Linked DNA regions of Homo sapiens. The protein of the gene in region 1 interacts with the protein of each later gene in a biochemical or structural test. Each region holds a gene or a part of one and is shown on either strand. Other genes may lie near its edges. The genes, in order: SH2B3 and MET.

Region 1 (3,817 bases):
AGCCGAGATCACGCCACTGGACTCCAGCCTGGGCAACAGAGCGAGACTCCGTCTCTAAATAAATAAATAAATAAATAAATACATAAATAAATGGGCCGGGGGCAGCTGCTCATACCTGTAATCCCAGCACTCTGGGAGGCTTAGGTGGGTGGATCACCTGAGGTCAGGAATTCGAAACCAGCCTGGCCAACATGGTGAAACCTCGCCTCTACTAAAAATACAAAAATTAGCTGGGTGTGGTGGTGTGTGCCTGTAATGCCAGCTACTCGGGAGGGTGAGGCAGGAGAATCACTTGAACCTGGGAGGCAGAGGTTGCAACGAGCTGAGATCATGCCACTGCATTCCAGCCTGGGTGACAGAGCGAGACTCTGTCCTGGAAAAAAAAAAAAAAAAAATCACACACACAAAAACAAAAACAAAAATAAATATAAAACAAAAAATAAAAAGGAATAAATTAACAAAAGTCACGGGGGTCCAGAGGGATTTCCTGCACTGACAGGGGACCCTCAGGACTAGCAGACCTTTGCCTGCCCATCTCAACTGGGGCATCCTTCTCCTCCCATGGCCAGAGGGCCTTTCCTTAGGCACAACATCACCAGAATGGCACTGAGACCCCCCACCCCTCTGCTGTCCACGGTGCAGAACAGTTGGGACCTCTGTGGGCACCATCCTTCCTTCCTCCTGACCCTCGCTGGGCCTGGGCCCCTGCTGGAGACCACATATCCATGTCGCTCTTCAAGATGGAGAAGAAATGCTCTCCCTACTCAGGCACAAAACTGGGCCCCAGATCCCTGATATCAGCACACCCTGAATGAACAGCAGTGCCACTCCAGTGACTCCCTCCCTGGGCAGGGGTAGTGGCTGCACAACACAAGCTACAGAGCCACAGGGGCCTGGGTACATTTGCTGCCTCCAATCACGCCCTCCTTCATCCTCTCTTCAGGTGTTACTGAGGGCCTACTGTGTGCCAGACACCAGGCTAGGCCCTGAGATACCACGGTGAACAGCACAGACGAACACTGCTCTCCCAGGGCTCACATTACAAAGGGGGACACGTATTGGCTGTGTGGCTCCTGATGCCTGACTCAACCTCTCTGAACCTGGATTTCCTCATCTGCCAACCAGGTGGCAGCATGGCATCCACCTTGTAAGGAACCCATGAAAGGGAATGCAAGGTGGAGATGCGAACCTACAAATGGGGTTCTCTCTGCCACACACCCCTCCACAGGCACCGTCTCTGCATGTGGCCATGTCCCGCTGGGCATGTCTGCAGGGCAGTGGCAACAAAGGGTGCCCCTGTCACATGAGGCCATGGTGGAACCCCCACAGCCGATCTCCACAAGAAACCCCAAAAAGCACAAGTAGGTGCCTCTGCCCTCGATGGAAGGGGGCCATGCAGAGTCGACAATGTTTTTTTTTTTTTTTGAGACAGGGTCTTGTTCTGTCACCCAGGCTGGAGTGCAGTGGCATAATCATGGCTCACCGCAGCCTAGACCTCCCAGGCTCAAGCTATCCTCATCTTGGCCTCCCAAAGTGCTAAGACTACAGGCACACACCACGACACCTGGTTAATTTTTGTATTTTTTGTAGAGATGGGGTCTCACTATGTTGCCTAGGCTGGTCTCAAACTCCTGGGCTCAAGCAGCCCTCCCACCTTGGCCTCCCAAAGTGCTGGGATTACAGGCATGAGCCACCGTGCCCTGCTACAGTCGACAGTTTTGTACATCACAGGGTCCTTGGGACCCGCACACAGTAGGTACTTTGCACACAGTAAGTAGTCACTAAAAGCTGTCAGGCAGATGGGAAGGGAGAGGGAGGGGCCACATCTGCCCTTGGCCACCATGTTCTTCCTGTCCCTGAAGGGGGGAGGGTCTAACCCCTGCATAAGGGCACCTGTTCTTGGTCAATCCTACTGTTCCCCACACCCAGCCTTGACACAGGTGAGACAGGCGCTGCCCTCGTGGCTTGGAGGATGCCCAGAGAGCTGTGATTCCAGACCCAGGCTCCTGCCCCACCTACACGATCTGCCGCTAGTCACGCCAGCTGCCTGTGGGTGTTGGCATGAGCCATTCCCTCTGCCCTGTCTGCTTCCAATTGCACATAAGAGAAGCCTCTTCTGAGCTCCCAACTGAACTTGACCTTCAGCACACTGGTCACACATTATCACTTGACAGGATGCTTTTATTAGTGACTATCTCTCCAACAGACTGAGTTCCATGAGTCATTCCCTGCTTCATCTCCAGCTCCTAGCATACAGCAGGAGCTCAATGAATGCCTCTTGAATGAATGAACATATGAATGCAAGAGATCAGTTGGATTTGCAAACTCTTGCTCTCCCGGCAGATGCGTGGCAACCAGCATGAACCAACCTCCCCCGCCCCCTGGGCCGTCCTACCTTCCGCACAGTCCTGTATGTCAGAGTCTTGAAGCCCAACTGCAGGGCCAAACCCTGGCAGGAGCCTTCCTCAAAACAGCTGCGCCCACTCCAGGTCCCTCACTGCCCAGGCAACGGCTGGGAACCCCCCTCATTGGGCCCCTTCCACCAGTCCTCCCATAAGAACAATGGCATTTACTGAGCGTCTGCTACACATCAGACATTTTTCTTTCTCTTTTTAGAGACAGGGTCTCACTCTGTCTTCCAGGCTGGAGTGCAGTGGCACAATCATAGCTCACTGCTGCCTCGAACTCCTGGGCTCAAGAGATCCTCCTGCCTCAGCCTCCAGAGTAGCTGTAACTACAGGCTCATGGCACCATGCCAAGATCATATCAGGCATTTTTCTAACTACTTTTACAAAATATTACCTCTTCCAAGGTTCCTAACAGCCCTAGGAGGTAGGTCCAACGATTACTTCCATTTTACAGATGGGGAAGCTGAAACAGAGCGGCCCCATAGCTAGTGATTATAGAGACCCCCACACAGAAGGGACCCCCAAAATGTCTGATCAGTGCCTAAATGCACACAAGAAGGGCTCACTTCCCAATGAATGCTTATTGGATGAATGAGTGAGTCCCAGAGGAGAGAATATAAAAGTCTCATTCAGCTCCAGCTGGAGTCAGGAGTCGGCAGTAGCTCTGTCCAGGTCCCAAACCCACCAATGATCAGGAAAACTGTCACAGGGCAAAAGGAAGAAAACAAAAATGAGAGGCTGGGCTCAGTGGCTCACACCTATAATCTCAATACCTCGGGAGGCCAAGGCGGGAGGATTGCTTGAGCCCCAGAGTTCGAGACCAAGCTGGGCAACATGATGAAACCCTATGTCTACTATAAATACAAAAAAATTAGCCTGGCATGGTGGCTGGGCCTGTAGTCCCAGCTACTCAGGAGGCTGAGGCGGGAAGACTGCTTGAGCCCAGGAGGTCGAGGCTGCAGTGAGCTGTGATCACACCACTGCACTCCAGCCTGAGTGACAGAAGCAGACCATATCTCTATAAGAAAAAAAGAACTGATGTCTGCAGTGTGCTTGGCATGGGGCTCATAAGTGGCTGCTGCTATTTTCTTACTATCACTGTTAGAAAAGAGCTCCAGCCTCGGAGTCAGGCTCGCCCGCCATGGGAAGCCACAGGGGGGCCTGCCTCATGGGCTGGGCTCGGGGCGTCATGGGGAGCTGGAACAAAAGATCTTCTCAGGGGAGAGGCGGCTGCTCAGGCTGCTCCGGGCAGGAAGTTGCCAGCCCAGAGCAGTCAGCTGTAGCCCAAGCTATGGAAGGGACTGTACCAGGGAGGTTTTTTGGCCAGGAGGGCAGCCAGGCCACAGGAAGGTGGATCCCTCCCTGACCCTGGCCCAGGCAGTGGCGTTTATTGAGTGCTTACTATGTGC
Region 2 (3,817 bases), on another chromosome or scaffold:
AGTGTCCGGAAGTGAGCCTTCTTTTCCTGGCTGGTGTATGCTGAAACTAGTGTTTTTGACACCAAGCCCTTAGGGCAGAGTTTCTTCATGGGTTTTGCTCAGTGCAAAATAAATAGTCACTTCTCAGTAATAAATGATAGATACACTGACTAATGTTAGTTCAGAATCACTTTGATGATGTGTTCTCAACTGACACTGAGTTGCTGCTAGATCCACATTTGCCTGACCAAAAATAGCTAGGACCTATAGGTAGAGTATCATATGTGCTAGGTACTACAGCATTTTCTTTAAAAGAAAGAAATGGAATCTGCCCTTGAGAAGTTTATGATCTAGATACACAGACAAATATCACATATTAAATGAACACAAATTCATAATTATTAAGAGGACATCACATGAGAAACGCTTTCAAAATCATCCTATTTGCTATGAAATAATAGAATTTTTTTTTAAAAATCAAAGTTTGGAACTTAAAAACCTTAACATTTTCAAGCTGTTTCTGCATACATCACCTTTCTGATACCAAAACGACCTTACAAGATAGGCAAGTCTGATAACATCTTAACATTCTTATGTTATAGACAAGGAAACTGAGCTTGAGACTAGCTCCATGCTATTTCAATAGCACCATACCACCTTTCCTCAGCCATCAACTATTGGAAACATTTTCCATGGAGGCATCATTAGGGATGCTTAAGATAGTGGTAAATGATGAATATAACATATCTAGTCCCTGGAGTTTTTGTCACCTTCTCTTTCTCCAGTTCTCTCTCTCTTTTTTTTTTTTAATTTCTTTTCTTTTCTTTTTTTCTTTTCTTTGTAGTGAGACATACCGAGAAAAGGTTTCATTCATATGTGTGGGGCATTCTGCTCCTGTTATCAGATTAAGAGCCGTGAATAATTTTGTAATCTATCCTTCTATCAGAAAGCCCATTCTCAGATATCTTTTCAGCTGTGTTAAACAGGTTAGTATATTCCGCTTGGGATTTGTTTCAATAAAAACATCCAGTAAAATCTGACTACTTTGCTTTTCATGGGACAAAATGAAAAAAGTGCTTTTATAAGCTGTAAAACTTAATTGAGAGAAAAAATCACGTGTGGCATTTGTAGCAGGAGGTATGAGCTCAGTGAAATAAAAAAGTTAACTTTGTAATCACATACCCAGGTACACATATTTCTCTCTGTGATTGCATAAATGTGTGCAAGTATGTTTATGTAGGTTACTCCCATTGATTTTAATTTCTATAATAAATTATGTAGCTATAGGGCCCACAGGCGATTATATAATGGGCAATAGAATTTGAAAATGTATCTCTCCTAATATAATTAAGGATAGCAATTATGAAATGTGCTTAGAGAATCACAAGTTATCGTGAAAGCCAGGTTCCTGTACTCCAAGAATGTGAATGAGGATTTAGTCATTCATTCAGGACAATTTTTTGACAACCTACGAGGCATAGTTCTAAAATCTGGCATTTCCACAGAGTATAAAACAGATGAAAACCTCTAACCTCATGACACTCTGTTCTATTGAGTTGGCAAACAATAAAGAAATACATAACTGAAATGTGTTGTATGTCAGGTGATGATAATAGCTTCAAGGTAGAATAAAATGGAAAAGAGAATAGTGACTGTCAAGGATAAGAGAGAGTGGGATGGTGATTGAAAAACTCAATAGTGAGGTCAGGGAAGGCTTGTCTTCAAAGGTGGGCTTTGGGCTAGAATCTGAAGGAGATAAGGAAGTGAGCCAGGCGCATATGAGGAGCACTTCTCAGGAGTGCTATTCTCATCTTGTTTTTCCTGAAATTGTGCAGTTCACAGCTTGCACAACTGTCCATAGACTCCCTGATTTTGGAGGGAGATACCTGAATAGTGCCCCTGTTTTTGTAGGGAAATACCTGGACAGTGCCTGCCATCATTAGCTACCATGTTAAAGATGAAGATACAGGAGTGGCCCACATCTCTTGGTTTATGAGACATGGAAGAAGAAGACCCAGAGTGTTGTTTTGTTTTTTTTTTTGTTTTTTTGTTTTGTTTTGTTTTGTTTTGTTTTGCATCCGCCTGGTCCCATCCCATACTCCATCCTCTATCAGAGATATTGCTCCATTCAGACAATTTTCCTTCTTATTTTCCACACTGTGAGCCTGTCACAGTGGGATTTGTTGAGAAGGATACCCATGGCTTTTTTCACTGATCCCTTCCATAGTATAAATCTAAAGACAGCAAGAGGCAGTTGCTGATGGTGTGCAGCTTCTGTCTGCTATGCACTTCTTTCTTTCCCCCTCGCTCTCCTTCCTTTTCCTTTCCAGTATTAAGTCACTGCATTGGATTTTCTTCCTCTTTTCTTCCTTTTCCCTTATTCCCCTATTTATATCCTGTATCAAGATTTGCAAACAGGTAACTTAAATGAGGAAAACTAACCATTTCACTAGGGATTGACAAACTGCTTAGGAAAAGCAGAGGGGCAGTCACTGCTTGGCGTGATTAGAGCTGTTGTGAGGCTCAGTGTATGGCATGGGCCCATGTGGTAGTATCTTTCAGATTTTCAAGAGAAGCTAGGACTCTCCCAATTTTAAAATGTTGACTCAGTGTCTTTAAAACACCATACAGCTTACAGTGGCAGAAAGTCTGCAAGCCAGATTGGGCTCCTGATGGTCCCAATTGCAGCAGCATGCATGGCCCGAGAGCCCCAGGACTGCTTCTACAAAATATTTTATTTTCTAAAATTCTCAGAAAATTAACTAAACAAATTTTTTAAAACCAATATTTTATGTCAGTTCCTATTGGCACGTGGTTATTTTTCTAAACTCATCAGCCCACATACTTTACATCAAACTATGTACGTTTCTAAACTAAAGGGTAATCTAGTTATTTCATTCTTAAACTGAAGTAGTAGTTTTCTGAAACCTGAATCCATCATGGCTTTATGCATCAATTTCATTTCCAAGTTCTCTGATTCAGGATAAACTCCCCCTTTGGAATATTGTCTTTCTCTCTCTCTCTCTCTGTCTCTCTCTCTCTCTGTCTCTGTCTCTGGAAATGACTGAACTTCACCCGTTGTTATTACCCTGCCATTGAAATTCAAAACATGCACTGCCCTCCTGGTTTCCAGTGCCCTTTAAAAGCAATCAGATCAGTGTTAAAATCTATTTTTCCAAAGGAATAAAAGCTCACAGGTTGTGCACTAATTTGTTTCCTTTAATCCTAAAATCTCAGTGAAATGCCCAAGCTAGCAGCCCTCCAGAAGGCCACTGTGTTAGAAAGGGAGATTATGTACTGTATTTCTTCCTACTATTTTAAATGCAAATATAATAATATATCATGAAACAGTGCACATACAGTATACATATTAAGATCAGTGGTCTATTCCTGTTTTGAAATGGTCTCCTACTCCTTAATAGTTGGAATTCTGAGGCAGCACCTAGACTCTCAGGTCCAATTTGAAAATGTATGTTTTTTTTTAAAAAAGAATGACTTGGGGAATAACTGTTTGATAAGACCGTGGAAGATTTCTAATTTTTAATATTTTATTAAAAATGTAAAGAAAGACATTCAAAGCTGAGACCTTTGAAATAATATGGTCTTTGCAAGTCAGAGAAAAAGAGAAGTGGTAAATTTATTAGAGATAGGTTGCCTCCTTTGAGGCCTAATCATGTGGGAAAGGAAAACCCAGCCAAGGTTTGGGTCCATAAGACAATTCAACCTAGCTTTAAAAATAGGTTTTGGCTTTGCTTGGGACCAGCATTGGGACCAGAGTGTATCTAGACCAGCATTTTAGCTATTAAATTTTAAACCTAGGGGTCTTTTAAGGGAAATT

Evidence for each region.
Region 2: the proteins of SH2B3 (region 1) and MET form a complex in vitro, tested with the Homo sapiens proteins (one large-scale study listed by BioGRID and IntAct).

What each region holds. Positions count from the first base shown.
Region 1 is NC_000012.12:111,412,198-111,416,014, reverse strand, and holds part of SH2B3 (SH2B adapter protein 3), read right to left. Parts: intron 1-3,817. UniProt on the Homo sapiens protein: Links T-cell receptor activation signal to phospholipase C-gamma-1, GRB2 and phosphatidylinositol 3-kinase.
Region 2 is NC_000007.14:116,674,980-116,678,796, forward strand, and holds part of MET (hepatocyte growth factor receptor isoform b preproprotein), read left to right. Parts: intron 1-3,817. UniProt on the Homo sapiens protein: Receptor tyrosine kinase that transduces signals from the extracellular matrix into the cytoplasm by binding to hepatocyte growth factor/HGF ligand. Regulates many physiological processes including proliferation, scattering, morphogenesis and survival.